3 separate regions of the Homo sapiens genome follow, and all the other regions are linked to region 3. The links come from fine-mapping of genetic effects on gene expression. A gene starts in region 3. Each other region holds a variant in brackets. All regions are shown on one strand. Distances are from middle to middle.

The links. PIP is the estimated chance that this variant, and not a neighbour inherited with it, causes the effect.
Region 1: its variant is fine-mapped to the expression of IER5 in whole blood (TOPMed, PIP above 0.99).
Region 2: its variant is fine-mapped to the expression of IER5 in whole blood (TOPMed, PIP 0.96).

What each region holds. Positions count from the first base shown.
Region 1 is chr1:181,118,301-181,129,135 of GRCh38, forward strand. No RefSeq gene overlaps it. Among named protein-coding and RNA genes, the nearest start is that of IER5, 35 kb to the left of the region's middle. RefSeq lists an enhancer at 10,552-10,651. The variant C/T (reference allele first, on the strand shown) is at 6,634.
Region 2 is chr1:181,056,756-181,067,590 of GRCh38, forward strand. MR1 (major histocompatibility complex, class I-related) reads left to right here. Exons shown (of 6, transcript NM_001385161.1): 6 at 1-5,183. Among named protein-coding and RNA genes, the nearest start is that of IER5, 27 kb to the right of the region's middle. RefSeq lists enhancers at 5,273-5,402, 6,043-6,092. The variant C/T (reference allele first, on the strand shown) is at 5,573.
Region 3 is chr1:181,083,341-181,094,175 of GRCh38, forward strand. It overlaps IER5 (immediate early response 5), which reads left to right and starts at 5,360. Exons shown (of 1, transcript NM_016545.5): 1 at 5,360-9,560. The coding sequence starts at 5,563. The coding sequence ends at 6,546. It overlaps LOC124904465 (a long non-coding RNA gene), which reads right to left and starts at 5,161. Exons shown (of 2, transcript XR_007066762.1): 1 at 4,935-5,161; 2 at 4,457-4,530. RefSeq lists silencers at 5,139-5,408, 5,719-5,878, 6,079-6,298, 6,873-7,167 and an enhancer at 6,689-6,858.

The DNA.
Region 1 (10,835 bases), 35 kb after region 3:
TCTGGGAGAAAGCCTTTTGCTGAATCCCATGACTTGTTTAGGGAACGGGGCTGGTTCCTGTGTACTGTGGCTTAGCTGGCTGGGATGAGAAGCAGCTTACAGGTGTCCACCTTGTACTGACCAGAGAAGCCTAAGAGGTGACCCAGAAGAAGAGAAGACTCAGAGGGCTGGAAGGTGAACTTGTGTTATTTGGCTTGGTTTTTTTTTTTTTTGAGATGGAGTTTTGTTCTTGTTGCCCAGGCTGGAATGCAATGGCGCGATCTCGGCTCACTGCAACCTCTGCCTCCCAGGTTCAAGCAATTCTCCTGTCTCAGCCTCCCAAGTTGCTGGCTGGGATTACAGGCATGCACCACCACACCCTGTTTTTTATTTTTAGTAGAGACGGGGTTTCACCGTCTTGGTCAGGCTGGTCTTGAACTCCTGACCTCAGGTGATCCGCCCACCTTGGCCTCCCAAAGTGCTGGGATTACAGGCGTGAGCCACCGTGCCCAGCCAAGCTGGCTTGTTTTTAGTGGAAAGTGCCGTGAGTGTGTTAGGGAACAGGCCCTAGTGTCTTCTGCTCCACTCCAGAGCTCCATGGACCAGTGTGTGAGACCACAGGGGAGGAGAAAGTTCTTGGAGTTGCCTTGATTTATTGATGAAGGGGATGTGACTTGGAGGTTAGTAACCCAAATCGTATCTATTCAAGGACCTAATGCATTGTTTTAGGCATGACTTGGGAATCTACTCCCAAGACACTCGGTCTCTTTGTCATAAGTTCGGGCAGGTGTGGAGTTGGGAAGGAGGAGAAGGAAGCAGCAGGGACTTTGGTCCTGGATCCTGTTCACCATGACCCAGCATGACGTTTTCCTATTGAGTTTTGAGGAGTGCATCTACTCTGCTTACCTGGCAAGAGACTCTAGCTCAGAAGCAGAAACCAAACACACAGGCATGAAAACCCAACAAACCTTCCTTGACCATGTACTCAGATTGGCAGGTGCTAGGGGCTAGGAGGAAAATCAGGACCTGTAGGACCCAGTTCCTGCCCTCAGGGAGCTCACAGTCTACCAGGGAGGTGTCACATGTACTACTGCAATTAGAGGTCATTTTTCTTCCTGGGAATGAGTGTCTCACAGCAGCCAGAGGTTGAGGCTTTGTCTTAAGGTGGAGGTAATAAAAACCTGTTTGTTTTCCCAGAGCAAGACTTGCCTCAGGGCCCCTGCTTGTTTGAGACAGGGCATTCAGTTTGCCTGAGTCAGGCTGGGGAGGTTCTTCTAGTCTTTGGAATCCTGTTGGGCAGGGTGGCTGCAGGGGATCTGGAAGAGGTAAGGCCTGTCCCAGGGGTGGGGGCTGAGGAGGTGGACATGAAGAACTCCCTGGATTAGGACAGTGGCCCAGGAGGGGAAAAGAGATGTTTGGGTGGTAAGAAAAACAGAACGAGAGAGTAGGAGCAGCTGGCCACCCAGCAACCCTGACCACAGTCCTCTCCACCTAGCTGGAACGGCGTGTGATGAAAAGAACCAAGCTGCCCACACACTCGTGGTGACAGCACTTTAACACAGAAATATCCATGATCACAGTCATCTTCAGATTCAACCAATATTCATGGAGTTCCCACCGTGTGCCAGCTAAGAGGCTTGGTGCTTTTCCACAGCTATCTTCTTTAGCCCACATTCTCTCAATAATTCTATGAAGTAGGTGGCTCACTCCTGTAATCCCAGCACTTTGGGAGGGCGAGGCAGGCAGATCACTTGAGGTCAGGAGTTCGAGACCAGCTTGGCCAATGTGGTGAAACCCCATCCATCTGTACCAAAATTACAAAAATTAGTCAGGTGTGGTGGCACATGACTGCACTTCCAGCTACTCAGGAGGCAGAGGCACAAGAATCGCTTGAACCTGGGAGGCGGAGGTTGCAGTGAACCGAGATTGTGCCATTGCACTCTAGCCTGGATGACAGAGTGAGACTCTGGCTCAAAAATAATAATTCTATGAAGTAGGTAGCAGCCTCATTTTACAGATAAGAAAACAGAACTGTGGAGGCCTAAGAGTACACAGTGAATACTCACCAGATTTGGGTTTGAACTCATCCTGCTGGCAGGTTCTATGGGACACCACCTAGATGTCCTTTAAGTATTTATTTATTTATTTATTTATTTATTTATTTATTGAGATGGAGTCTTGCTCTGTCACCCAGGCTGGGGTGCAGTGGCGTGATCTTGGCTCCCTACAATCTCTGCCTCCCGGGTTCAAGCGATTCTCCCACCTCAGCCTCCTGAGTAGCTGGGATTACAGGTACCCGCAATCATGCTCGGCTAATTTTTGTGTGTGTGTATTTTTGTGGAGACGGGGTGAGCCTCAGGTGATCCACCCGCCTCGGCCTTCCAAAGTGCTGGGATTACAGGTGTGAACCACCACGCCCGGCCTCCTTTAAGTATTTCAAATTCATTTTATCTAAAACCAAGTTCACTGCTCTTGACTCCTCCAGGGTTCCCTTGTCTCAGTAAATAGTCTCAGTGCAGCTGCCTGGAATGTGGATGTTTTCCTAGATACTTCCCTTTCTCTTGCTCCTACTCTCTAGGTCTGTTTCTCTTACCACTTAAACATCTCTTTTCCCCTCCTGGGCCACTGTCCTAATCCAGGCTTGAATCATGTATCAGCCTGGTTATCAGAATGGCCTCTAGCCTGGGCTCCCTGCCTGGAGCCTCCCCACCCTCTCCCATCCACATTGCTGCTGCAGGTACCTCTCTGTCAAGATAAATGCAAACCCATTATGTTCGTTGAAGGGCCCTTCTGGACTGGACCCTGATTGTTTGCAGTGCCACATCTCCTATCCAATCTTCCTGCACATTACTGTCCCCCAGGCAGGTGACCTGTGTGTGGTTTCCCGAGTGTGCCACACCTCTTGTCTGCCACATGCTTTGCTCAAGCTGTTCTTTCTCTCTGGCCTCCCTTGTTCTCACCCATCTCTGCTCATCCCCCCAACTTCTATTTGTGTCTTCCAACCTAGCCCCAGTTTCACCCCTTTGTGTTAGCATTTCCAGATGCCCCAGGTGGAGGTATTGCCCCTCGCTTCTGCTACCTGTCCCCAGAACAGACCGTGGGGCTCTGCTGACCAGAATTGGAGTTTTGGATGCTTGGCAACTGTAGTCATTGTTTGACAAATGAACAGCCTTAGAAAATAGTGTTTTAAGTCGAGGAGACACTGCAACATAAAATAAATTTTAGAAAACTATGTATATCTTGTGTAGTTCATTATTCAAAGGAAGAGAGTTAGCATTTGTTGAAGCCTACTACACTCTATGCCGGCCCTTTACATGTGTTATGTCACTTAACCCACAATGCTAGGACTGAGGCACAGAAAGCCTAGATGGCAGACCCACAGTCACTCCGCGGTTATGGGCCACACCTAGGGATCAAGTCCAGGCGAATTATCTGCTCCTTCCCTGCCTCCTCTGGCCTCTCCTATTTACAGGCAGGCTATCCAGTGTGGGGATTCTTTTCTTAGCTATCTGGAGGCCTATCAGGACTGTGACAAGGGAGTAGACAAGGGATAGGGGACCAGGACAAGAGGATCAGTGATGCCCAAGTCCCCACAACTCGATGTGTTTTCTTTTTTCTTTTTGAGACAGAATTTCGCTCTGTTTCCCAGGCTGGAGTGCGGTGGTATGATCTCGGTTCACTGCAACCTCTGCTTCCTGGGTTCAAGCGATTTTCCTGCCTCAGCCTCCTGAGTAGCTGGGACCTCAGGCATGTGCTACCATGCCCAGCTAATATTTGTATTTTTAGTAGAGACAGGGTTTCACCATGTTGGCCAGGCTGGTCTTGAACTCCTGGCCTCAAATGATCCTCTCACCTTGGCCTCCCAAAGTGCTGGGATTACAGACAGGAGCTACTGTGCCTGGTCTTGTGGTGCGTTTTCATCACACCTTACTGTGTCTCTCCAGAGGCACAATTCCTACGGTAGGATTGTCACAAAGTGGCCTGAAGGCTGACAGCATTGTGACTCCACGACCAGGCACATTGGGCCTATGCCCCCGTGGCCCATTTCAGCATGGAGAGAAGCAGAAACAGAGCTGGGCCCCGGGTTTTCCCAGGAGCCTGGAGCAGGGCCCTCCCCTCCCTGTCTCCTTGCTCAGCAGTGTGCTTGGTGCCAGCTGGTGCCCAGCACAGGACTATTGCATGAATGAAGGAATGATTGGGTGCATTCCAGAATGCCATGCTTCTCAGGAAGGAGGAGAAGGGAGTGCTCTCCCTTGTTCTTGGGTGTCTTTCCTAAGGTCAGGAGAATTTCTACCATCATCCAATTCCTAGCGCTCTCTCCATGCTCCCCTCCTTCTCTTCTCCCTTCCTTGGCCCCTTTTCTAGTCTCTTACCTGGGAGATGAACATATTATTTTACTTTTGCTGGCTTTGGGATCCCCTAGAGAATGATCCATTCAACACTTATTCACCAAACACTTATCGGGTGCCTTCTCTGTGCTTGCCAAGTGTGAGGCTCTATAGGTAGAAAAAGAATGAGGAAATGCACCTGACCCCCAGGAGCTCATGCACAGGGGGCAGCCTGACAAGGCAATGGGTTACAATGGCATTTGACTGGAGGTGAGTGCAGTGAGGGACACCAGGAAGACTTGGATGGATGGGACTCAGGGAAGGCATCCTGGAGAAGATGAGAGCTGAGCCGAGGCCTGAGCACTTGCATGACCCTGGGAGTGAGTGCCCCCTTACACTTTGTGTCCTTAGTCCCAGCTCTGGTCCTGAGGATGGGTTGGAGTTGGTGGGGGAAAGGGGAAGACAGTGATGGGGAACAGCTGGGAAGTGCCTTCCAGGTAAGGGAAGCAGCTTGTGGCAGAGGCCTGAAGTGAGCCCCATGGTTCCTTCATGTCCACCCCTCTGGAGGGGGCGCCGTGTGTCTGGGACAGCTGCTAGTTAGTGCCTGTACCTCATCAGTCACACCCAAGAGCCAGACCATTGTCCCCACCCCCCTTGTTACCAGTACTCTTTTTGGGGAGAGAAGGTAGCTCAAGGTGGCAAGGGACTGGCTGTTGTGGGCTCTGACAGCTTCTCAGCCTGTCTACCAGAGTAATAAAATAACTGACACTTAGTGCTCACCGTGAGTCAGGCACTGTTCTGAACAAGCACCTTACATGCATGAACTCACCTAGTTCTATGAGGATGGTGCTATTACTATCATCCCAACTTTACAGATGCAGACACTGAGGCACAGAATGGTGGAGTAACTTGTCCAAGGTCATACAAGCAGAGCCTGGATTCAAACTCAGGCAGTGCAGTCCCAGAGCCCATGCACCTAACCACTATACTGCTTTTCCTAATACTGCTGAAAAACAGGAGAGAGTAAATGCCCTTTGGGCAATTTGTAGTAAGTACTACAGGTGTAAAATGTATGAAAAACTCACATCTTATCTTAAAAACTCACGTTCATTGTGACCGGGCACAGTGGCTCACACCTGTAATTCCCAGCACTTTGGGAGGCTGAGGCAGGAGGATCGCTTGAGCCCAGGAATTCGAGACCAGCCTGGGCAACATGGCAAAACCCCATCTCTACAAAAAAATATAAAAATTTGGGCGTGATGGTGCATGCCTGTAATCCCAGCTACTTGGGAGGCTGAGGTGGAGGATCACCTGAGCCCAGAAGTTGAGGCTGCAGTGAGCTGTGATGGTGCCACTGCACTCCAGCCTGGGCCACAGAGTGAGGCCCTGTCTCAAAAAAAAAAAAAAAAAAAAAAAAAAAAAGTCATGTACGTTTTGCATCTATGGCAAAACAAAATCTCTGTTTAATAAAAATACCTTCCACCAAATAATCAAGTAGAATCGGTGCTTCAGAGAGATGTGGCCCATGTCTTCTGAGGCACTGAGTATCCTCAGACAGTCTGCAGCAGGGAGAGCCCAGCCAAGCACAGCTTTCAGAACAGGAGGGGCTCAGACCAGGCTGCAGGAGGTGGGAAGAAGGGACTTGAGTTTTCACATGGGTGCTAGATTGCTTTCCACCCTACATCTTCTCACCCTATTTATACTAGTGTCTCTCTGAAGTCAGAGTGCATGCTAGGAACATGGACAGAGACTTCCCCATGTGACCATCAGTGTGAAGGACTTCTGTCAATGGACTACTCCCATGTTATGGTCACTGGGCTGCCTTGTTGGTGGCTGCTGTTTCTCCTCCTCCCCTTCCCTGCTTCCCCTTTCCTTCCTCCCCCATCTCTTCCTCCCCTTCTCCTCCTCCTCCTCTTCCTCCCCCTCCTCCTTCGTTGTTCCTCCTCCTCCTTCCTCGTTCCTCTTCCTCCTCCTCCTTCCTCTTCCTCCCTCCTCCTCCTCCTTCTGCTTTGTTTTCTTCTGGAGGAGGCCTCCCTAAGAGTCATGTTAGCCCACACACATGAGATCAGACTCTGGGGAACCTATTCCATTTTAGCTGCAGCATTTAGTTCTTTCCAGTTTTCTAATTCCTCTTTTTTTTTTTTTTTTTTTTAGTTCTAGTGTTTGCTTATGTTGAGCCACTGCAGAAAACCCCCCTTGAGTGGGCTTAAAAAATAACAGCCACCACTACAAAACCCAACATTTTTATTATTTCTTTACCCTCCCAGTTTCCAAATAGTTCCCTCTTTTGGGGCACACATTGACCATCTTTCTTCTGTCCCAGACA[C/T]GAGGTGCACTGTCGCATGGCTGACTGTGAGGCTCAGTGGGGCCATTTCTGTTGAACATATTGCAGGTGAAACTGCCCCAGCTTTCTTCTCCTCTGATGTCTTTCAGCCCCATCATCTCTGAGGTCTCCTTAGGGAGACCTCCTCATTCATTCATCCAGTGGATAATTATTGAGCACTTACTATTGGCCAGGTGCTGTTCCAGGCACAAGGGTGCCATGGAAAGCATGATAAAATTGTCTTGTGAAGCTTACATTGGTCAATGGAGACAGACAAACACCCAAGATGTAAATAAATTTAAAAGGTTCAGATAGTTATAAATGCTATGAAGAAAATAAAATAAAGTAATATACGGAGCAACAAGAGGAAAGGAGAAGAAACATCAAGTGCCAAGATCCCAGAGTAGGAAAAGACTTCAAGAATGGAAGGGGTATCAGGGACAGCGGGGAGGGGGAAGGGACAGATCACACAGGCCTTATATGCCATGGGGAGGAGTTTGATTTTATTTTTTGTGCAGCAGGGGAGCAACATGATCACTTCATGAGAAGGACCATCCTGGCTGTTGTGGAAAATGGATGGTTGTGACCAAGAGTGAGAACAGGGAGACCAGTTGGGAGGCCATTATAGTCACCCAGGCCTCGGCTGTGGTGGCTTGGAAGGTGCCCCCTTGGATGGGGGCAACAAAGAGGGTGAGAAATAGATTTGAGGTAGATTTATTTTATTTTATTTTTTTGAGATGGAGTCTCACTCTATTGCTCAAGCTGGAGTACAGTGGCGCGATCTCTGCTCACTGCAACCTCTGCCTCCTGGGTTCAAGCCATTCTCCTTTCTCAGCCTCCTGAGTAGCTGGGATTACAGGCGGCGCCACCACACTGGCTAATTTTTGTATTTTTTTTTTTTTTGAGACGGAGTCTCACTCTGTCGCCCAGGCTGGAGTGCAGTGGCGCGATCTCTGCTCACTGCAAGCTCCGCCTCCTAGGTTCATGCCATTCTCCTGCCTCAGCCTCCTGAGTAGCTGGGACTACAGGCACCTGCCACCATGCCCGGCTAATTTTTTGTATTTTTTTTTTTTTTTAGTAAAGATGGGGTTTCACCATGTTAGCCAGGATGGTCTCGATCTCATGACCTTGTGATCCGCCTGCCTTGGCCTCCCAAAGTGCTGGGATTACAGGCGTGAGCCACTGTGCGGCCTAATTTTTGTATTTTTAGTAAAGACAGGGTTTTGCCATGTTGGTCAGGCTGGTCTTGAACTCCTGATCGCTGGTAATCCACCTGCCTTGGCTTCCCAAAGTGCTGGGATTACAGGCATGAGCCACCACGCCTGGCCTGAGGTAGATTTTAGAGGCAGACACAGTGGAGTAGAAAATGCTCTTGTCTGGGACCCAGAAGTCCTGGGATTAAATCCTGAGTTCACCACTCATCAGATGTGGGAGCTTATACAGATGGCCTAATGCTTCAGTCCCCTCATGTATAAAATAAAGATACCGGCACCTACCTCCCAGTTTCTCAAGAAGGGGAGCTGAGGAAGGCAGATGTGCCCAGCATGGTGCCTGTGAAACAGGGCCTCCGCCAAGTTGCTTAGCGAGAATGAGTGTGGGTTTGAGTGTACTCCAGAGAGGTAGCTAGGCACTCCAGGCATTTCCTGGAACTCACTTGTCCTCTGTTAAAAAGGTGGAAAGGAAAGATTGTCACCCAGGCTATTGGGAGTGGGCGCATCTTCCAGGTAACTCAAAGTCAACTCTGAGTAAACAGGTAAGGGTGTATTTGGAAGCCACTCATTGCCTTTTAAATTGGGACATGGGTTTTAGGTGAGGGTTGGGAAATGCCTAGGGCTGGCAGGAGAGAATGGCCTGAGGGGCTCATGGCGGCTGGGCCAGGCAGGAGGGCTTGAACCTGGGGGCGGGCCTGTTGCATCCAGAGGGGCAGCTGGTAGAGGTGGCTCTGGAAATACGGGCTCTGGCAGATGATGGAAGGAAGACTGGGGAACAGTTTGATGGACTGATAGGTTTCCAGAGACTCTCAGCCAGCCTGGATAGTGACCTTTTGCAGGTGGAGCTGGTCAGTTTTGAGGCCTTTCCGTGGAAGTTCTGAAAGCAGAGGTCCCGCCCCTGGAAATCCCCCAGCCTACGCCGGCTTGTTGTTGTCCTGCAGCCCTGTGGGAGCTGCCTGACCCTGGGGCAGGGTGCACGGACTTAGATTAAGGCCAGAACCAAAGGTCAGCTTAACTGGAGTAGTATCCATGGGCTATGCCCCTTTCTTTTTAGCTCTCTGAAGTGTGGATGCTGCAGCATCAGGTTTCTGAAGGGCAGGAAAGGGGAGCTGACGTCAGCAGAGCACCTATGGAGCACCTGGCACTGTGCCAAGCAGCCTAGACTCCTCATGACACATGGGTAAAGCAAACATTATTATCTCCATTTTTTTTTTTAATAGTAGGAAACTGAGGCTCCAAGGGTTGGAAGTAGCTTTTCCCATGTCACGTGACTGGTACTGGGAACTCGAGTCTGCCCTGCTTCACAGCTCTTGTTCCTGCACAAGTGTCTCCGGAGAGGCTGGGGTACATCAGAACCTCCAGAGGAGGGGACTTGGGAGCTTGATGTTTAAAAAAGCAACACAGGCATGTGCAATGGAGAACTGAATTGGAAGCTTCTGCCTGTGGCTTTTTTTTTTTTTTTTTTTTTTTTGAGATGGAGTCTTGTTCTGTCGCCTAGGCTGGAGTGCAGTGGTGGAATCTTGGCTCACTGCAACCTCTGCCTCCCAGGATCAAGCAATTCTCCTTCCTTAGCCTCCTGCGTAGCTGGGATTACAGGCATGTGCCACCACACTCAGCTAATTTTTTTGTATTTTTAGTAGAGACGGGGTTTTACCATGTTGGCCAGGCTGGTCTCAAACTCCTGAACTTATGTGATTTGCCTGCCTTGGCCACCCAAAGTGCTGGGATTACAGGCATGAGCCACCGCGCCTGGCCTGCCTGTGGCTTTATTGAAGGCCTTAGTGGGGACATTGTTAGGTGCCTGCTTTTGCAACACCACCTTAGCAGGACTTACAGAATCTTAACTGGAAAAGAAACTTTAAACTGTATTAACTAGGCCGGGCACCGTGACTCATATCTGTAATCCCAGCATTTTGAGAGGCCAAGGTGGTGGTTGTGGTGGGGCTGGGGGGGTCATTTGAGCTCAGCCTGGGCAACACAGTAAGATCCTGTCTCACTATGGGCAGGGTGGTGCGTGCCTATAGACCTAATCACTTGTGGGGCTGAGGTGGGAGGATCGCTTGAACCCTGGAATAAACTGTGTTAACTGACTTTCCAGCTATGATGCCTGGGGAAGTCATTTAACCTCTCTTAGCCTCAGTTTTCTTGTCTGTACAATAGGGATCAAAATGTTTACCCTGCAGAACTCTTGAAGGATTAGGGATGTTATAGGAAATGACTTAGCATAATGCCTGGCCCAGCTAACCACTGAATGAATGGTAGCTGTTAACATTAACCAATGCGTCATTAAATCTTCTTTTTTGTGAGGGGACTGGGGGATTGTTGGCTCCCCTGTGGTCTGCTCACCCATTGCTGAGGCCCCCTCCTTGGCACAGCCTGTTCCATAGAAAGAGCAGACTGCCAGCCACTCCTCTCCTTCTTCCTGAGGAAGCCCAGTGTCCCCACGGGCCATCGGACCCTTGCCCCTGGCGCTTGAGGCTTGGACACATGGTGACACCCTCTGCTTTTCAGCTGGCAAGCGTGCTCCCTCTCCAGGCTGGCCCCAGGGCAGGCCGGGCAGGGGGAGCTGGCCTCGTACTGGGGATGCTGGTCCTCTGCCCTGCTCCTCTGCCAGCTGGGCGGCTGGGCCCGGCAGCAGCTTGGACTAGCTTGAAGGCCCAGCAGGGGCCTCTGTGGGCGGCAGCCTCCCTGAGCCCCTCTTTTAGCACCGGGCCATCTGGTGCCTCTGTCCCCTTTTGTGTGCCTGCGGGGAGAGGAGGGGAAGTGAAGGGGGAGGAGACAGGAGATCTCTCTGGCCAGCTTTCTTCTGAATTGAGGAGAAGGAGGAGTTTGAGACAGAGGGGAGCAGGGCCTGGGAAAGAGGTGGAGGGGACTCTAGGCTTGGGACTTAGGAGGAAAGGAGGAGGGAGACATGAGAGATGGGGGGGAGAAAGAAAGCCCAGAAGGAACGGACGCTCTAGGATCCTGGGTACGAGAGCTCAAAGGGAGAAGAGA
Region 2 (10,835 bases), 27 kb before region 3:
TGACCTCTGCTCTCCCTTGACCTTGACTGTGACATTTGACCTTTGGCTTTAATCATTACAGCCTCAGATAAAGGTACCTTCAGCCCGGGCACAGTGGCTCACGCCTGTAATCCTAGCACTTTGGGAGGCTGAGGCAGGCGGATTCCCTGAGCTCAGGAGTTCAAGACCAGCCTGGGCAACACGGTGAAACCCTGTCTCTACTAAAATACAAATAATTAGCTGGGCATGGTGGCATGTGCCTATAGTCCCAGCTACTTGGGAGGCTAAGGCAGGAGAATCACTTGAATCTATAAGGCAGAGGTGGCAGTGAGCCGAGATCACACCACTGCACTCCAGCCTGGGCAACGGAGCAAGACTCTGTCTCCAAAAAAAAAAAGAAAGATACCCTCAGTGTGCCAGGCCTCTAAGAGCTCACCTGCCAGGCTTCCTCCTTGCTCCACTGTCCCATGTAATTCCATATATGAAGCTACCACTGTACATCTCTCTTTTCCGGTGCCTGTTGAGTTGCATAGAAGCACAGTTGTGTTTATTTTGTTTTTAGGGTTGCCATGGGCAATTTCCGTGCCACTTTTAAGCAGTGTTGCACTGTGAAGAGAATGTAGGCAAGTTTATTTCTGGAATGGTTTCTTCTTACAATCAGAATAGTTAGGATGTAATATATTTTTGGGTGGGCATTTAAAGTGAAAAGGTACATATTTACATAGACACAGGTGATAATGTATCTATGTAAATGCCTTTTGATTCTGCAACTGCAGGATACTCTCATCAAAGACACAGATAAAAAGCCTCTGTGTTTCCAAGGCCTTGCCCTACACCTAACACATAATATGTCCAAATGGATGAAGAGGAGGCAAGGACAAGGATGTGATGACAAAACATTCTGTTATGCACTTGTAGCATTTATGTTTCTTCCTGGGGGATTTTATAATACTAAAAGAATCATAATATAAAGAGATGATTAAAAAAAAAATACTGCCGGGCACGGTGGCTCATGCCTGTAATCCCAGCATTTTGGGAGGCCGAGGTGGGCAGATCACCTGAGGTCGGGAGTTCGAGACCAGCCTGACCAACATGGAGAAACCCTGTCTCTACCAAACATACAAAATTAGCCGGGGATGGTGGCGCATGCCTATAATCCCAGCTACTCGGGAGTCTGAGGCAGAAGAACCGCTTGAACCCGGGAGGCAGAGGTTGTGGTGAGCCGAGATCGCGCCATCGCACTCTAGCCTGGGCAACAAGAGTGAAACTCCATCTCAAAAAAATAAAAATAAAATAAGTAAGTAATACCTAAAATTCTGCAACCTTCATTTTACTATAGATGGTTGAAGATTATATTACTTCTTAATTGTTTTAGCCTTGTTATTGCTTCATTACTTCATGGTTGTTGAGTACAGATGCTCAGTAATCATAACCTATGAAATATTTGACACCATGATCTAAACATTAAAAACAAATAACTGTGCTATTGCCACAGCTATGTTTTGGCTTTGAATTTTCTTTACTGAATATTTTGGATCAAGAACACTAGATGAGAAACCTGTTCAACTCTGTTCTTTTTTTTTTTTTTAACTCCACTGTATTTATTACCTGTTTTTGTTTTTTTTGTTTGTTTGTTTTTGATGTGCATATAGACCAAGATGTGGTAAATTTAAATGGCAGATGTTTTTGATGTGGTACATTTAAGGGAGAGAAAGCAGTTTAAAGAGCAGGGTGAAAAATCCAACAAGACTCCATCGAGAGTTTCTGAGCTCTCCCATCAGGGGCCAGTCCTCCTTTCCTCTCTCCTCTTACTCCCATGATTTCCAAGTTGTGATCCTTTCCTTATTTCTGAGGAATGACTTGGTTTCTCCTCTTCTTTTTTTGGCCTGAGAGAAGATGTTTTTGCACTTGTAGCTATGAGGAACAGATTGTCCACTAGGGAGGCCAGCTGATCATTTTCTGCCAGAGTCACACAGAGCAGTCACACCTTATTTTGAAAACCACTGTCTGGGGTCTTTGTCCTCACATATGCAGGTCTAGTGTCCCCACAAAGTGATCAGATGGATATATAAAGTGGAGTGCCAATGTATTAATTTACTGTGAGAAACACAATTGCTAAGTGGGTCAGATATCTGTCTCAGCTGGTCAGTACACCTTCCAGCAGGAAAATCTACATAAGAACAACTAAATCACAATCTGTAGAGTGCTTGATGACCCCAGAATTGGTGCAAGGGGACACATTCTTGCTTGTTAGCACCTGCTCTCTGGAGTTTGCTATTTTCTCACACACAGTGTATTAGTTCACAGAATGTTCTCCAAGGAGGACAGGGGGCTTTGCCCATAGCCATGTGCTGTGGGCAGCAGAGCTAGGAAGAAGCACAGGCATCTCCCAGCCCAGGTGTTTCCCACTTAACTGCATTGCCCTTTTCATCTTTTTTTTTTCCCCAATAGCTTCAGGACATTCAGTACATTGTGCTTTTTAGAGGTTGATGATTCCACTGCCTGAGCTGCCTTCACCTCTCTTTCTTTGGAAATTGCCATCTTTGAGCATTGTATGTCTCTGTAACATCTCTGCATCTCCTTTTCACTCTGGCCTCCCTTTCTCCATTGTCCTTCTAGCTTCTGGTTGCCCCAAACCCCACAGACTGTGTAACAAAACCCAAAACCTATTGGTTTAAAACAATACCCATTTTATTTTCTTTCATAGTTTCTATGGGTCAGGAATTTGGATATGGCTTGGGTAAGCAGTTCTGGCTTCTCATGGAGTTGGAGGCAAGTGGTGGCTGGAACAGAAATGGGGCAGCCAGGGGTGGTGGCCAGGCATCAGCTACATCTCCTCCATGTAGTCTCAGGAACTCTCCATGTAATCTCTCTGTGTGGGTTGGGCTTCCTCACAACATGGTGGCCTCAGGGCAGTCACTGCTTACATGGCAGCTAGCTTCCCTCAGAGTGAGTATCCCAAGAGATCACAGTCAAAGTGCATAGCATTTATATAATCTAATCTTGGAAGTCACAAAATGTCATTCTTGTGATACTCTCATTGGTGAAGAAGTCATAAAATCCTGCTCAGGTTCAAAAAGAGGGTGTATAGAACCCAACACTCAATAGGAAGATTGTCAGAGTTACATTGTAAGAAGAGCATGTAGTTGGGAGATATCATTGTGGCCATTTTGGGAAAGATGCAACATGTCACAATGTCATGTTCTCCATCGTCTCCCCGTTCCACCTTGTACTGGTTTCCAAGGGTAGTCGTTTAAAAGTACCACAAAAACTGGGTGGCTTGGAACAACAGAAATTTATTGTTTCACAGTTCTGGAGGCCAGAAGTTCAAAATGAAGTGTTGGCAGAAACATGCTGCCTCTAAAGGGACTGGGAAAGGATCTGTTCCAGGCTTCCCTCCTATCTTCTGGTTGTTCCTTGCCTTCTGGCTGCGTAACTCTAGTCTTCATTTGGTGTTCTCCCTGCATGCATGGCTTTGTGTCCAAATTTCCTTTTTTCATGAGGCCATCAGTCATACTGGATTAGGGACCCACTCTACTACTGCAGGATGACCTCACCTTCCCAAATTACATCTGCAACAACCCTATTTCCAAAGAAGGCCACATTCTGAGGTACTGGGGGTTATAACTTCAACATGAATTTTTTGGAGGAAACAATTCAACTCCTAACACATCTCTACCCAACCTCTGTAGGTTCCCTCAATCCACCAAAATTTTTTGGCTCCACTGGATTATCTAGCAGTTAGGAAACCAAGATCATTAAATGAATTCACCGCAACTACAGTGAGACTGACTACCTTAGCTTACCTCTGTGAAAGGAGTTAAGCCAAAGGAATCTGTGGAATTTTGGAGAGTTTGGGAGCATTTGGGGGCAGGAGGCAAATGTTCTTCCTTTAAATCACAACACTTAGTTCTCTTCCATTTATAAGACTCACCCCTCCATCCCAACCCCTGCACCACAGGACAAGGAAGTGTTCTTGGTCTTCAACTTTCATCCCTGATGGTGAAAGCAGTTGCTCCTGACCTATTTGCCCACCAGCTTCTCCTCTGGAGCCTGAGGCTTCTGATGCCTGCCTGGCTGGTTCTCAGTAAGAAGGTCAAGTTCAACCAGAGGGGAGATGCTGATGCCTTTCAGTACTTAAATATGAGTTCAGACCCTGGGGCCTGGACATAAGATTTGGGGTCCCCTGGATATAAGATTTCTGAAAACACTCAGACTGTGGAGACCCCTGCTGAGGGAGAAGCCCCAAACTGTGGCTTCAGGGGAATGCACCAAGGCTCTCATTGAGGCCACCTTCTCCAACAAGCTCCCCTCCTGCTTCCCCATGGCTGGCATGGCTGAGGAAAAAGGACACTGAGCACAGCCCGTGCATGAGCGGCTTGCCATGCAACAGGATAAAACCCATAATGCCACTCAGCAAGCCTTGGTTGTAAATCTAGTTTGATTACATTTGTAATCAAATGATGGCCATTTGTTCTGTTTCTGGTTTGTGAACCAACTGAAGACATAAGCAGGGCCTCAGCTAACCCACAAATAGCACATGTGTGCAAACTGGAAAAATGAACCCTTCTTCTGGGAGGACGCCAGCCCAGGCCAGGTCACCCGGCTTGGCCAGCAGAACACAGAGTAGATTTTGGTCCCGTTTGTTCCCCAGTGGGGTATCTATCCTTGTGCAGGGCACAAGCCTACATGGTGGCTCTGGTCATATCATTAGAAAATAGACAGAAATGGGCTGCACACCAGAATGAATGAATTGAATTGAAAGGGAGGAGTGATGGTGGAAAAAAAAACAAGTCAATTCATTTAGACTGGTAGAACCAGAACCACTGTGTAGTACATCCAAACGGTTAAAATTCCCTGGAAGATGTTACATAATCCTATCATGGTGTTTATTTATGGAAATCTATTTTAAAAATTTTATGTAATACTGCACAGTCTGTTTGCATGATGCCTTGTACGTAGTAGCAACTCAGTAAATACTTTTTGAATGAACTAGTATAGTATTTTAATTAGCTAGTCTTCATGTACTGGTACAAAAGAACAGTGTCATCTTACAGCTGAAGTCATAGAGGGGAAATATCCCACTCAAGATCATATAACATTCCAGGTACTCAGGATGAATGGTTTGAGGACTGGTCTGAATTCTTCAAAGGTTTCAGCTGTATTAACATTCTCCATCTAATAAACTTTATCTTGTCATTGCATTGTCTGTGAGATTAGTGATCTGAAACATTCCATCAATACCCCCACCCCACCCAACACATACATATTAAAGACAAAGATAGAATTCGGAGGTTCTTATGGGAGGTACTGTTTTTCTCGAAGGCTATGAGAAGAGGTGCTGAGAAATGAGTTCTCAGCCATCTTGGGGGCCCAAATATCTGAAACCTTCCAGAAATGTAACTAGTCTGAATTTGCTTTTCTGTCACCATTTGGGTATTTGGTTAATGAAAGTTCTTAACATGCAAATTCCACCCACTCTTACCAATGCCCTGAGCTGGGAAGCACCCTGAGCACTCTTACCACACCCTGAGCTGTTGCTTTTCCTCTCCGCCTTGCCCCCACTCCGTGTTGGCTGCACCAGCAGAGGCTT[C/T]TGCATTTGCCCCTGGGCGGGAGTTGGGTATGAAGGTCTGGGCCAGAAGGTTCTGAGTCCCTAAGCTGAGCTGCTGGGTGGCAGCTGGAAGGTCAGGCTGGCTGAAGCCCTGGCGAGGTGACACTGGGTCTGAGGCAGGTGCAGTGGCAGCGGCCAGACCTCTGAGGACACAAATGGGCTAGAGTGTGGGAACAACCGGGGAAACAACCCGGGGGTGGGAAGGGAGTAGGAAGGGGGGAAACAGCTTCTGAGAGGAGGCTACAGGATGAAATGGGAAGCCACGAAAATAAGGAAGTGAAACCAAGGGAGAAATAAGAGTGCCACCCAAGCCGAGGCCGTCCTGGCCTTTCTTCCTTTCTGAGGCATCAGCGCAGATTCTAAGTTTACTTGAACTAACCGAAAGCTCTGTTGTTTTCTGAGCAACATCACAGTGGCATAAATAGAGAATTCCTGGAACACACTGGCAAGACACACGCTCTAGAAGGTGACAATTCTGGGGAAATCTGAAGGGCTGGAATAATAAAAAGTCAAACATTTGGCATCCCATCAGCTGCTGAAACACAACCCTCTCACGTACTTTAAAATACCCAACACATGCACTCTGCATATTACTCACGAAACAGCTACGAATGCACAGTCCCTGTGTTACACACAACAGGAAGTTGCCAAACCAGATGTAACCCACCAAGGCCGAGCACATGGGCAGCCCTTCACCTTACTGTTAAAAGACTGAATGGTCATTGGTCCCTGAGGATCCCTGAAGAAGACAGGCAAGCTGTTCTAATCCAATTTAGGTCTTTGCAACTGAAATTGAGATCAAATTTCAAAGATCTGTAAACTAGTGCAGCTTCACAGACTTGAAATTAGTCTACAAGATGACATGTTTCTGGGCCTAATGATGACATTTTTAGAGACTGCCCCCAGCCACAAGGAATTATTCGTTTTTTCTGTGTGGCATGGTATACACCATATTTTCATTCAAGCCACAGAGTTTTTTTTACCCCAGTTTCTTATTAATAATCTGCCACAAATACTGATATTTAAATCAAATTCTTATGGCCTTCATTAGTTAATCAACCATTCATGAAATATATGCGCCATAAGGCCTGACACTTCAGTGCCTGGCACATAGTAGGCACTCAGTACATATGCATATTGACAAAATGAACTGCTGCTCCTACAAGCCAGACTCTGTAGGCAACACAGCACAATGATGTTCTGAAAATTAGCAAGTACAAAAATGGCCCAGACATATGCTTATAGAAAAATCAAGCTCACATCACAGAAAATAATTTTAGAGATTGTAATCTAGAATGCATTTCTATAAAACAGTCCCTGGGTTTTCTGCTAACAGAAGAAATACAACTCTGGCTGGGGGCACGGTAGCTTACACCTGTAATCCCAGCACTTTGGGAGGCCAAGGCGGGCAGATCACTTGAGGTCAGGAGTTCGAGACCAGCCTGGGCAACATGGTGAAACCCCGTCTCTACTAAAAATACAAAAAAATTAGCTGGGTGTGGTTGCTGGTGCCTATAATCCCAGCTACTTGGGAGGGTGAGGCAGGAGAATCACTTGAACCTGGGAGGCAGAGGTTGCAGTGAGCCAAGATTGCACCATTGCACTCCAGCCTGGGCGACAAGAGCGAAACTCTGTCTCAAAAAAAAAAAAAAAAAAAAAAAAAAAAGAAAAGAAAGAAAGAAATACAACTCTGACAGTGAGCTTTCATAGTAATACTGAAGACACAGGTTGAATAAAACTTTCAAGTGAGATGGGAGGGCCTGCACATAAATATGCCATGAAACAAAGGACATGGGGAGGATGAAGGGCTCAGCACTGCCTCCTTCCCTGCAGCCGCTGGGCTGGGCTAAGAGGACCCATAGGCAGTGGCGATGGCGACAGCAAGGAACTCAGAGATGTTCAGTGAGACAGAGGAACTTCTAATCCTCTAGTTTCCTTTTGTCTTCCTGATAGCCTATCCTCAGAGAAATAATTCCCTTACTAAACGCCTAAGTGCTTTTCAGCTCTGCCACTCAACTGACACTTAGCTATTCTGTGTTGGTATTTATCTGTTTCTGCTCGGCTTATCTCCCTGGCTGGACTATAAACCCCTTAAGGGCACAATGTGAATTCTGTGTCCTTCACTTAGTATCAGGGTGATCTTAAGTTGTTTAACTTCTCTGAGCCTCATTTTTATAAAACCCGGGGCTAGTCAATACCTGTCTTCCAGTGTCAAAGTGGGGATTAAAGGAGATGTGTGTGTGCAAGCATATTGCAAAGAAATGGCATCTGGGATGTGTCTTCCTCTACGTGCTCTCCAGGGACTGCTCCCCATGTCCCATATAATCGCAGCCACCATTTATGGGTGCTTACTATGCACTGGGTACTTCACATATATTACTTCTATTCCTCATAACAACGTTGGCAGCAGGTATTATTATTATTATTTTGTTGAAGTTCAGATAAATTGTATTTCTTGACAAGGTTATATAGTTAATAAGTGGCAGAGGCATGATTCAGACTCAAGACACTGTCTTGAGTCTGGGCACTGTCCTATCTGCACACAGGGCACTGTCCTATCTGCACACAGTAGGCCCACTCCATCAATGCCTGACCAAAACTGTGAGGTGTCATCCACTTAAAACTATTGAGGACTAAACTCTGATTTTTTTATCTTGCCCAAATTCTTATCTAAGGGGACTGGGGAGTCATGCTCTATAAATCATAAATTCTCATCAGATGGGTTTTATTTAACCCTACATATCATGATTTATTTTCCAACTTGACTCTGACATAACATTACCAGACAAAGAAGAAAATCAAAATATTTTAACCTGGCCAGGCGTGGTGGCTCACGCCTGAATCCCAGCACTTTGGGAGGCCGAGGCAGGCGGATCACAAGGTCAGGAGTTCAAGACCACCCTGGCCAACATGGTGAAACCCTGTCTCTACTAAAAATACAAAAATTAGCTGAGCATAGTGGTGTGTGCCTATAATCCCAGCTACTTGGGAGGCTGAGGCAGGAGAATTGCTTGAACCGGGACCCAGGAGGCAGAGGTTGCAGTGAGCCGAGATCGCGTCACTGCACTCCAGCCTGGGCTACAGAGGAAGACTCCGTCTCAAAAAAAAAAAACCCACAAAAATTAGATGGGCGCAGTGGCAGTCACCTGTAATCCCAGCTACTCGGGAGGCTGAGGCAGGAGAATCACTTGAACCCAGCGGAGGCAGAGGTTGCAATGAGCCGAGATCACGCCACTGCACGCCACTGCACGCCAGCCTGGGTGACACAGTGAGACTCCATCTCAAAAAAACATATATATATATGATATGTAATATATTTAATATTAATTTAAATATATCAATTTTAATGTAATTTAAATATTAATATTAATTTAAATATATATATATTTTAAACCTCAAAACATGTTTCTTTGCCTTATTTTGAATTGGCCCTGCAAAGCTGTTCTTTGTCAGGGGAAATTTGCATCTGTAAAGAATCTCTATTAACATAGCTAGATCTTTTTCTTCCAGACCCTCCCAATCCTAAAAAGATTAACTAAGATCTGAATAGGAAACATTTGTCCCCTATTGTCTTTAAGCCACTGTAAGACTTAAAAAGAACTTTGGTCTCCACAATCTTTATCTTAACCTGAACATTCCCTTTCTATCTATCCCAGGTCTTTAGGCAAACTCAACCAATTGTCAACCAGAAAATGTTTAAATTCACCTATAGCCTGGAAGCCCCCACTTTGAGTTGTTCAGTCTTTCTGGACCAAACCAATGTATTTTTTAAATGCATTCGATTGATGTCTCATGCCCCCCTCAAATATATAAAACCAAGCTGCTCCCTGACCACCTTGGGCACATGTTCTCAGGACCTCCTGGGCCATGGTCACTCACTCACATTTGGCTCAGAATAAATCTCTTCAAATATTTTACAGAGTTCGATTCTTTTCGCCGACACTATGTTCTGTACTTAATCTTGGGAACAAAGGAGTTCAAACATCTGTGCAATGAATCAAAAATTAATAAAGGCCCTGATAAATTTAGGAAAGTTTGAATCTTTTTCCTCTGACTTTGATGATGTGACTTAAAGGCTGAACAAGGCCTAAAGGGCCAAATGAAGCAAGTTACCACACATTTCATGGACATGTCAGTGAAACCCGTGGATAACATTCGCTACTTGTTGATTCTTAGTATATGGAGATGCTGGTGCATAAAGGAAAAAGTATAAGCTCCCTCACCTTGCAAAAACAACTCACCCAGGGTAGATCTATGGGCACACAGAATTGCAGAGCTGGAGGGCCCATTGAGTGTCATATAGTTCAATTTTCTCATTTTTTTTTTTTTTTTTTGAGACAGAGTCTCTCTCTGTCGCCCAGGCTGGAGTGCAGTGGCGCAATCTCGGTTCACTGCAACCTCCGCCTCCCGGGTTCAAGCAATTCTCCCGCCTCAGCCTCCTGAGTAGCTGGGATTACAGGTGCCCACCACCACGCCCAGCTAATTTTTGTATTTTTAGTAGAGACGGGGTTTCGCCATGTTGGTCAGGCTGGTCTCAAACCCCTGACCTTGTGATCCACCCATCTCGGCCTCCCAAAGTGCTGGGATTACAGGCGTGAGCCACCGCGCCCGGCAATTTTCTCATTTAACATATGAGAAAATTGAGGCTAGAGTGAGTAAAGTGATTTGCCAAAAGAAACCCTGAAACCAATGATAAACCTCATGTCTTGACATAAATGTTCAACATCTCTAGTCATTAGGGAAATGCAAATTAAGAGCACAATGAGCTATCACTGCATATCTCTAAGAACAGCTAAAATAAAAGAAGGCTGGGTGCGGTGGCTCACACCTACAATCCCTGCACTTTGGTAGGCTCACTTGAGTATCACTTGAGTCCAAAAGTGATACTTTGGGAGTATCACTTGAGTCCAGGAGTTCAGAATCAGCCTAAGGAACATGGTGAGACTCTGATTCTATAAAAAATTAAAAAAAAAAATTAGCTAGGCATGGTGAAATCTGCCTGTAGTCCCAGCTGCTCAGGAGGCTGAGGCTGGAGGATCACTTGAGCCCAGGAAGTCAAGGATACAGTGAGCTGTGTTTGTGCCACAGCACTCTAGCCTGTGCTGTCGGGCGAGCGGCACTCTAGCTTGGGGTATGGAGGGTAGGGGAGCGAGAGGGAGAGAGAGACCTTTGTCTCTTAACAAAAAGAAGTGATAATACCAAATGCTGGTGAGGATGTGGAAAAACTCAAAACAGTTTGGTCATT
Region 3 (10,835 bases):
AAATTAGCCAGGCATGGTGGCGCACGCCTGTAGTCCCAGCTACTCGGGAGGCTGAGGCAGGAGAATTGCTTGAACCCGGGAGGTGGAGGCTGCAGTGAGCCGAGATTGTGCCACTGCACTCCAGCCTGGGCGATGGAGCAGGGCTCTGTCTCAAAAAAAAAAAATTAAAATTAAAATTAAAAAAAAGAAAAATGAAAAAGAAAATCAAGCAGCCAAGAGAAAAAAAAAAAAAGATGTACAATATCCAGAATAGTGAGAGAAAAAAGGAACAAATTAAAAAGTGGATTTGGGCCAGGTGCAGTGGCTCATACCTGTAATCCCAGCACTTTGGAAGGCCGAGGCAGGTGGATCAATTGAGGTCAGGAGTTTGAGACCAGCGTAGCAAACATGGTGAAACCCCATCTCTACTAAAAATACAAAAATTAGCCATTGTGGTGGCATGCGCCTGTTGTCCCAGCTACTTGGAAGACTGAGAGGCGGAAGTTTCAGTGAGCCATGATCACACCACTGCACTCCAGCCTGGGCAACAGAGTGAGATTCTGTCTCAAAAAAAAAAAAAAAAAAAAAAAAAGTGGATTTGTCTGTTCTCAGAAGAAAAAAAGGAGTATCACTTACATAAAGTGCTAATAATGTATTTTTATAGATCTTTTCCCCCTAAATATTTAGTATGTCATACAAATGACTATTTGATTGCATAAGCAATTTTGACACTGCCCCTCACCCCCCACCAATTGAAAATGTCCTAATATTGAAAGGTAGGGACAGTGCAAATAACTTATTTTTCTTTCACCAACTCCCTTCTTACTAATTGTTACTTCTCACATAGCTACCGTGTGCATAATCTGTAGTGGGTTTGCACAGACTAGACGTAATTTAAGGCAAGTTAAGATCTTTAATCATCTGATAATAATACTTAGCCTTCAATTAGTTGTGTAAACAAGGGCGTAAATAGTGTCAACAGCAGTGGGCAGAGCAGCCTGTGCGACAGGAATCCACAGGCTTGAGCCCAGATAGCGCCTGAGTGACCTCAGACAGCTGTGGAAACAGCAGAGCCCAAAGCTCCTTGTACTAATCTGCCTGTGCCCAGCAGAGGGGTGAAAAGACAGAACAGACCTGTGGGAGGTGCTCTGGCCTTTTCTTCCAGAGCAGTTGGTTCCTCTGTTCTTCTGACAACCCTACTGTTTCTGATCATGCTGCGAACTTCTCTTTTCAACTGACAAAATCTCAGAGATGGATGATGGCAAATTCTAACTCAGTTCCTGCTTGCTAAATCTTAAAAGAATATGCTATCGTCCTGCTTTTTTTGGTAGGTGGAGGTGAAGTTTCCTGATCATACGAACTCGGGCCCTCCAGACATGAGTTCTAAAGGTTCCATTTCGTTGGCTCAGGATCAAAGAAAATCCTGATAATGACAGTGATAATGTGCAACTTGCAAGTCATCAGACATTTATTAAGCACCTATTATGTGGTACAGCAGAAAAAGCATTAAAAATTCAACAAGTACTAAGAGTGTACCTACTATGTGTTCAGAACTGTGCTAGGCACTGGTGTGATAACAATAACCATAATAACAACAATAACTAAGAATTATAAGTGTTTATATGGTGCTAGGAACTGTACTAAGCAATTTAGTTATTTTTATTATTCCCATTTTTCACAGGAGACTGAGGCACAAAGAGGTTAAATAACTTGCCTATATAAGCAAACTAAAATATGGATTTCCCATTTCACCTAGAGGTGAGATGACTTTCCAAAGGTCACACAGCAGTGAGAAGAGGAGCCAGGCAATCTAGCCCCATGACCCCACATTGGAGCTTTAAGTAGGTTAAATGTAAATGAAGATAATGATATCTACTTTCAGAACTTTATAAATGTGCTAAATAATGCATGTACTATGTCTAGCACAGTGCTTGGTAAACATTATTATTATTAGGAATTCATTAATCCAAGTGTATAATCACTCAGTATGCACTGGTACAGCCAACCCAGTTGTTAAAGTATTGAAATGTTTCCATGTCAGTTGATAGAACCTCTGCCCTAAGCCCGTGAGTAGCCCCCTTACTGGCCATGCAGCCCCTCTTGCAGGAGCCCTCCAAACCCCTAGCATTGTAAGGGCCTCCAGGACCCTGTTCTGATGGTTAGTGCCTGTACTGCACCAGCTGTTATGTATTTTCACCATATCCTGGCTACAAATATGAGCTGGGCTCCTGCCTTCAATGAGGGCATAGTCTGGGAGGGACACTGGGCATGACAGGAGAAAGTGATGAGGGCAATGATGAAGGAGTGTGCTGAGTACAGTGGTGGATGATGGAAAAGCTCAGCTCAGGCAGGTCAGAAAGCCTTCATGGAAGGCAAGAGGCTTGACACTAGCAATAACCTGCCTGGATGGGTGAGTGGGAGCATCCCAGATCATCACTAAAGTTCTTTTGTCTCTCAGTTTCCTCATTTTTTTTTTTTTTTTTTTTTTTTGAGATGGAGTCTTGCTCTGTCACCCAGGCTGGAGTGCAGTGGTGCGACCTCCGCTCATTGTAACCTCTGCCTGCTGAGTTTCAGCAATTCCCCTGCCTCAGCCTCCCAAGTAGCTGGGATTACAGGCACGTGCCACCATGCCCGGCTAATTTTTTGTATTTTTAGTAAAGACGGGGTTTCACCATGCTGGCCGGGCTGGTCTTGAACTCCTAACCTCGTGATCCGCCCACCTCGGCCTCCCAAAGTGCTGGGATTACAGGCATGAGCCACCATGCCCTGCCAGTTTCTTCATTCTTGTTGCCTCCACCTAGTTCAGGTCTTCACAACCCTTTGCCTAAATTTCCACAAGAGCTTTATGTGTGCTCTTCTATGCACCAACTGTTCTAGAATCTATTCTGTGCTTCCCTTACTGAACAACCTTTAGTAAGGTCCCTGTGGTCCTATCTCCTCATCAAGGCACCCACAACCCACTATCATGCAGCCTCGGCCTCTGTTTCTAGCCTTTCCCACTTGCTTTTGGGCATGTGCCCAGCACAACTGCAAAGTAAGATGTTCCCTACACTGGACTCTGTTGCTCCTGCTGCTTGGAACTTGTGGATCCTACCTCAGAGGTTTTCAGCACCCTCTTCAGATACAACTTCTTTGGTGAAACTTTCTCCCATCTATGTTCCTTTCTTCTCCCAGCCTCTTCTCCCACCCCAGGGTAGTATGTGGGGTAGTGTGTTCTGAGAACTAGCCTACATTGATAGCTTATTATATGCCAGGTGCTGTTCTATGAGCTTTGCATGTGCTACCTTGTTCTACCCTCACAAAAACTCTAAGAGGTAGGCATTATTATTATTATATTTATATTTATTTTATTGTATTTTTTGAGACAGAGTCTCACTCTGTTGCCCAGGCTGGAGTACAATGGTGTGATCTCGGCTCACTGCAACCTCTGCCTCCTGTGTTCAAGCAATTCTCCTGCCTCAGCCTTCCGAGTAGCTGGGATTACAGGCACCTGCCGCCATGCCAGGCTAATTACTGTATTTTTTTTTTTAGTAGAGACAGGGTTTCACCATATTAGCCAGGCTGGTCTTGAACTCCTGATCTCAAGTGATCCGCCCACCTTGTCCTTCCAAAGTGATAGGATTACAGGCGTGAGCCACCACACCCGGCTGATTATTTTGTAATAAAAAAGACGGCAGCACAGAGAAGTGAAGTAATTTTCCAGAGGCCATGCAGCAAGTGAAAGGTGAAGCTGGGATTCCAACCTAGGAAGCCAGCCTCCTCAGCCTGTGCTCTTAGCCATTGCTTTATAGTGACTAATAACTTGCAAAGAAAAAGAGAAGAGAAAAATTCTTGTGTCATTACTCAATATATGCTATTTGGTTTTGTAATTATTCGTGTCATTATTTTATATCTTCCTCTACGTGGGCTGAAAATTCCTAGAGGGGAGGAACTCTGGGTCTCAGAGCCTGCTGTCTCAGTTACCATCAGTTGTGGGCACAGGTAATGCTATTGAGCCATCACATCCTCTGGAGATTGTGAATTGGTCATGATCAAGCCCACTCTTCACTGGTATTTTTCCTAAATAAATTCATTGCTTGACCAACCCCGGGGCAGGATCAGGCCCAGGGTTCCACATGGACTCCAAGAAAGCAGTGCTTAGTTTTCTCATTCAGATTGTGGCTGAGAAGTTGTCATTTATCGTCTGTACAATAACGCAGATGTGTATGTGACTTCCCCCTTTTCAGCAGTGGAGACACTGAAGCGGCCTGAGGTTATTTACCCAGAGTCCTCAGGCAGGTCTGTGGTGGAGCTTCGGTGGAACTAACTGGAAGTGACTCCATGTTTCCAGTCCAGGACCCTGGGCAACCCCGTGGTAATTGTGTCCTGATATACTTATAAGGACCAGTAGATGGACTAAGTTGTTGACTGACCAGAAAATTCTGGAACTCCCTAGCACTATATTTTTACCTTGACACGAAATGAAATTATGACATCATCATGGGAACACAGGACTTCTTTCTTTTTATTTTCAGAACTTGCTCGATTTTTCCAAGGGTGGACTGGTCAGTCCTTGTAATGGAAAAATGGAAATGGAAAAAAAAAAGGAAAAAAAAATCATTGTGGAGAACCTGTAACATCTTCCATTTAACTTATTTGATAACTGGGTTTGTTCTAGAATCTAGAGAACAAAGTGAAAGATGCCAGCTTTAGAGGACAACCAATAACTTTGTATCTAGACACGATTCCTTGAAAAGAAGCCAAAAACCTAGGCAAAAACTTTTAGAATCCCCCTTTTCTTTGGGGTTAGAACTGACAGCTGCTAAGAGTGTATGTGACTCTAGCGGGGAAAGCGGCTCATCCAAAAATAATGATTGCCAAATACTTTGCAGTAATACTATTTGTTATCCAGGGGTGTCCTCCGCCGCGTATGGCCACCATCTCTATTTTTGCCAGGGTTGAGGGGGGTCGCTTACAGGTGTGGCCGGCCTGGAAACGGTGGTGTGGCTGGTGAGGGCGGAGTCGATCAGGGAAGGATCAGGACTTTATGGCAGAACAGAGTCCACCACCGTGTTCGGAAGAAAGTTCGAATATTTTGTTCGCTTTGGTTCCGGCAAGCCATCGCACAAGCCAGAATCTGTAACTCCAAACAGTAGCGCTCTCGAGCACCGTCCCGAACATTCACTCCCCACGGGCCTGGTCTGCGGCCGCAAGCCGTCGCCCCCTTTAAGAGCCTGCTCCGCGGGACTAACGTTCGAACGGGCCCTGGCGCCCCTCCTCGGGCTCCGATTGGCCGTGCGCGGCGCACGAGGGCGCGCCGGCCAGCCCCGGAACGGTTGGCGGCCCTTCGTGATTGGCGGTCGAGAAGCCTATATAAGGCGCGGGGCAGCCAGGCTGCCCTGTTTAGCGACCGGACCCGAAACGGGGAAGTTGTCTTGTTTGGAGAGGTTAGTAGAGCAGCGCGCGCGTCACCAGAGTCGTTTCTCTTCGGAGTCTTAGGTGATCGAGGGTGTGCCCAGGGGGCGGACTTGTTTGCGCCTCCCGTTCCCTCCCAATTTCCAAACGTGTCACCCCGGCGCCGACGGCCCTGTGCAGGGGAAGCAGATGGAGTTCAAGCTGGAGGCTCATCGCATCGTCAGCATCTCTCTGGGCAAGATCTACAACTCGCGGGTCCAGCGCGGCGGCATCAAGCTGCATAAGAACCTCCTGGTCTCGCTGGTGCTGCGCAGCGCCCGCCAAGTCTACCTGAGCGACCCGTGCCCCGGCCTCTACCTGGCCGGTCCCGCTGGGACCCCGGCGCCGCCACCGCAGCAGCAGCCCGGGGAGCCGGCGGCCGGGCCACCCGCCGGCTGGGGAGAGCCGCCCCCGCCCGCCGCTCGTGCCTCTTGGCCGGAGACCGAGCCGCAGCCGGAGCGCTCCTCCGTCTCAGACGCGCCGCGGGTAGGGGACGAGGTGCCGGTGGCCACGGTGACTGGAGTCGGGGACGTTTTTCAGGGCGGAGAGGCGGACGCGACGGAAGCTGCCTGGAGCCGCGTGGAGGGGCCGCGCCAGGCGGCGGCCAGAGAAGCCGAGGGTACCGCCGGAGGCTGGGGCGTCTTCCCCGAGGTATCTCGTGCCGCGCGCCGCCCCTGCGGCTGCCCCCTAGGCGGGGAGGACCCGCCGGGTACACCGGCCGCGACCCCCCGCGCTGCCTGCTGCTGCGCGCCGCAACCAGCGGAGGACGAGCCCCCCGCGCCGCCCGCGGTGTGCCCCAGGAAGCGCTGCGCGGCGGGGGTGGGCGGCGGCCCAGCGGGCTGCCCGGCGCCCGGCTCGACCCCGCTCAAGAAGCCCCGCCGGAACTTAGAGCAGCCGCCGAGTGGAGGAGAGGACGACGACGCGGAGGAGATGGAGACCGGGAACGTGGCTAACCTCATCAGCATCTTCGGTTCCAGTTTCTCGGGACTCCTACGGAAAAGCCCCGGGGGCGGCAGAGAGGAAGAGGAGGGAGAGGAGAGCGGTCCGGAAGCCGCCGAGCCCGGGCAGATCTGCTGCGATAAGCCGGTGCTGAGAGACATGAACCCCTGGAGCACAGCCATCGTGGCCTTCTGAGCCCTTGGCCCCCCTGCGGGGAGGAGGTGGAGCAGCGGGCGTCCCCGAAGTGAGGGCCAGGCCCTTCCCGGCTGCGAGGACGCCCAGAGACCGCGGGCGCTGAGCGCGTTGGGCAGACTGGTTGCCTCTGGGCATCGCAAACTGCCCCCGGGCGCATCTGGCTTATCTGGAGACCTGGGAGCTTGAGGCTCATTGGAAGAGGACGATCGTTAACTTTTGTGTTTGTGTATGTCTGTGTATGTAAGTTTGTCTTGTGGCATTAAGACTATTTTGCTCTTCTGGAATGCACCACTCCTTCCCCAGGGTTTAAGAGATTGGGGGCAGACAGGGACTTTCCTCTGCCGGCTGCGTGGAGAAGGAAGCGGCTAAAAGGTTTGGGCCGGGGAGTTCCCCATTCGTTCTCCGGGGAGGGAGGGACTTTACACCTACCCCTCACCGGAAAGCTAGACCCGCTTCAGGGCCAGGAGTGGCGTTTCCGCACAGGATTTCCTAAGACGAGAGGGATTTAGCCAAGAGCACAGACTTGGATTCCTTCTGTCCCTCCCCACCTTTCTCTCCCAATGAAGAAACGTTTATATCCTGTGATTACTCTAGGAAAGGGGCGTATTAACGGTCCTTTGCTTCCCCGCAGGGGAGAAAAAGCTTGACGAACTTCACAGAAGAGTTCAAGCTTGGAAATAATGGAGTTTATAGAGAAAAGATATATTTTTAAAAGCTCTAGGTCAGAAGTACTACACAGTGCTTTTAAAAAGTGTTTAATGAGAGTTTACAGACAGAAGCCCGAAGTGGAAAGACCTTATGGTTTTGTAGATATGGTGACTCCAGTCTTTGTTGTATAAAGGTTGGGGGAGCTGATAAGGTTTTTGTACAGTATTTTCTCCTTCGTTGTATTGATTTTTGTATAAAAATGTAACTTCTACGTGTCTAACACGTATTAAATATTTTGAAGCAACGTAACTGCCTGCTTGTCTGTAATAACCTGCCTGGGTTGGGAGGGAAGTGGGAGGAGGGAAACCAGGGCCTGAGCTAGAAAATTGAAGGTGTGGTTCTTAGTATCAGTCATTCGCAGACTGAGGACATTGTTTACTGACTCCACTAAGTATCAAGAGAGACACGTTTAATTTTTCCTCCTAGATCAGAGGACTGCTATTAGATACTAATATCGGCGACCTGTCAGGTTCTAGAAACCTGCCACTACAACTGCCTTTTCTAAGGTCAGTTTAGACCAATTTGTCACCCAATATGTGGGTGTCTAATACTAAGTAATTTAACCAACTTTTGAAGCCCCGCTTATCCACAAAAATGTTTTTCAGCAAAACTTTGTTTCCTGTTAAGCTATTAATACGGGTCATCTTTTAGCTTTGTAATTGAAAAAAAAAAAGTTTAGATAGTAGTTTACCTTAAAAGCCCATTCGAACTGACATAGGAAGATGAAAGAGACTGACTTGTCCAAATTGTCAGGTCCACCTCTGCATCACAGTGGATGTCAGGATGTAAATTTTCAGTTTTTCTCTTACATCTAGAAAGTAAATATATTGCTGAGAGGGAAATTGTTTGCATCAAACCAGATAAGGAAGGAGGGCTAGGCAAATTTAGTTCTCATTTAGCAAAACTTCCTGATTTGTTTTGTTACTTAAATGGTGACATCAGTGTTTGGTCATGGTAGACACTTAGGTGATGATAGCCAAAACATCCATCGATTTTACTAAAATCACTGCCATTAAGAGAGTTTTTTGTCTCTTCATGTTCAATGTTTGAAAGGTATTCAGTAATCTATTTCAGAAGCAAATCAATTAGGGAATGGTGTTTATTAAAATACGGTACAGTTGCCAGGACTTTAAAAGATGGTACTGGTTTCTAACAACTTACGAGTATATAGGGTATTTAAAAGATGGGAGAGATTGAAGAAAGACAAAGGTTTAAAGGTCATAGCCTTCGAGCATAAGAGGCATATGAATGGTGTCTTGGCCTTAACTCCCAATTATACGAACTTCTGTTTTAGCTGAATAGGCCAGTGCCTCGTGCCTTGATATTTCGGCAAATCTATTAGTGGTTCCTTAAGCATAGGGAACTTTGTACTTTATGCTCTGTCGCCATAATAATGTATTTATAGAATTAAACATTCTCAAATTAGGGTCTTGTTAAACTGACTTTTTCTTTCAGAAAGTAGCTACTTAAATTCTGTTACAGCTACAAAAGATCCATCAAGTGCTGACTGCTTAAACTGAAGAAGGTGTCCAGGGCCTTAATTCTGCAAACATTTCCTGTTGTTAGAAAGTATGATGCTTGAACAGCGATCTCAGTGTATTTTATGTTTTAAAGGGGGTAACGTTTGGTGTGTTTAAGAGAGCTGATGTGTTTTGGATGAGACTAAAGTTGATCCTTGGTTTTACATTAAGATGAACCTGGGTCCATGTGTCTGCTTAAAGAATGTAAATTGGCATACTTGATAGGAGGATAAAGCTTTGTAGGAATTAGAAAAGATCATTCTCTTTTTTGTTGCAGAAGCAGTATAGTATAGTAGTTAGAGCATGGGCCCTGGAGCCAGGCTGCTTGGTGTCTTCCTTTATTTATTTATTTATTTAATTATAAAAAGTAAATATAAAGTGAGCTATGTTGACCAGGTTCGTCTTGAACTCCTGGCCTCAAGCAATCCTCCTGCCTCAGCCTCCCAAAGTGCTGGGATTACAGGCATGAGCCACCACAACCTGGCCTGCTTGGGTTTTTCTATCTTGGCTCTGCCACCTAGCTGTGGGTCCTTGGACAAGTTACTTCATCTCTCTGTGCCTCAGGTTTTTCAAATGTAAAATTGGGATAATTGGATCTGTCTCATAGGGTTGTGAAAATTAATGAGTTAATGCTCTTAGAAGAGTACCTCATATGTAATAAGCACGCAACTGTTAATTATTGTTAATGTAGAAGTTAATTCTGTGTATAAATCAGATACACTGTGGTCAAAGATTTGTGTGTATTTGTAAGAAAAGAGGAGAATGGAGAATCTATTTTTAAGTGGTCCTATGTGTGAATGCTGGGTTCTTTTATTCCTCTTTTTCTCTGGACACTTGGCAGTCAGGAAGCTTTGTTCTACCAACATAGTTTTGTTGCTGTGAATGTCTCACACCAACCGGATGATTTTTCCAATTGTATCAAACAACTCTATTTTCAGGGAGGAGTAAGCTGAAGTGAAAACAGGCAAGGAGCAAAGTTCTTGTTGACATACAAATGCTTTCTGTGGATGAGTAAAGAAAAAAGTAGCCCATAAAGTTATTTTTGCTTGAATTATTGCGCATGGAATGTTTAAAACATGCTTATTGATAGGTTCTGGACAAGAGCCTTCCCAATGCCAACCTAGGGCTATCACACAACCAAATCAGATGCAGTGTGACTAGAAACGATGCCATGGTTTTAGTACCTAACCACTTCTTCACCACTCTGGGAGGGACCTAGTCTCTTGATCAAATTAACCTTAGCTCTGGGGTGTAAAAAAACCTTCTGACTGCTGCGTAAAAGCCAGATGTTTAAAGTGCTTTCCAACAAGTACTCCAAGAAGATCACATTAATAGGGAATAAAGTCTGGGCGCGGTGGCTCACACCTGTAATCCCAGCACTTTGGGAGGCCGAGGCAGGTGGATCACCTGAGGTCAGGAGTTCAAGACCAGCCTGGCCAACATGGTGAAACCCTGTCTCTACTAAAAATATAAAAATTAGCCAGGTGTGGTGGTGGGAAAAAAGAGAATAAAGGGATAAATGTTAGTAATGTATTTTTTTTTTTGAGACAGAGTCTTGCTCTGTCACCCAGGCTAGAGTGCAGTGGTGTGATCTCAGCTCACTGTAACCTCTGCCTCCCTAGTTCAAGCGATTGTCCTGCTTCAGCCTCCCAAAGTGCTGGGATTACAGGCATGCACCACCACGTCTGGCTAACTTTTGTATTTTTAGTAGAGACGGGGTTTCACCATGTTGACCAGGCTGGTCTCAAACTCCTGACCTCCGGTGATCCACCTGCCTTGGCCTCCCAAAGTGCTGGGATTACAGGCGTGAGCCACTGCCCCCGGCCTAGTATGTACTTCTCAACCATGTTGTTTTAACCCTGTCTTCCCTTTTAGAAACCATCATTTGTTCTTGGCGATGGGAACTAATGATGGAAAGCCTGAATTGCTCCTCCAAGGTGACTGGGTTTTCTTTATGGCACCAAATAACCTTTCCATTCCTTCTACTCATCACTGATTGGATTTGGGAGTGTGAAGTGAGAGGAAATGGGTCATTTGACAACTTTGGTGGAAAGCTTCTCA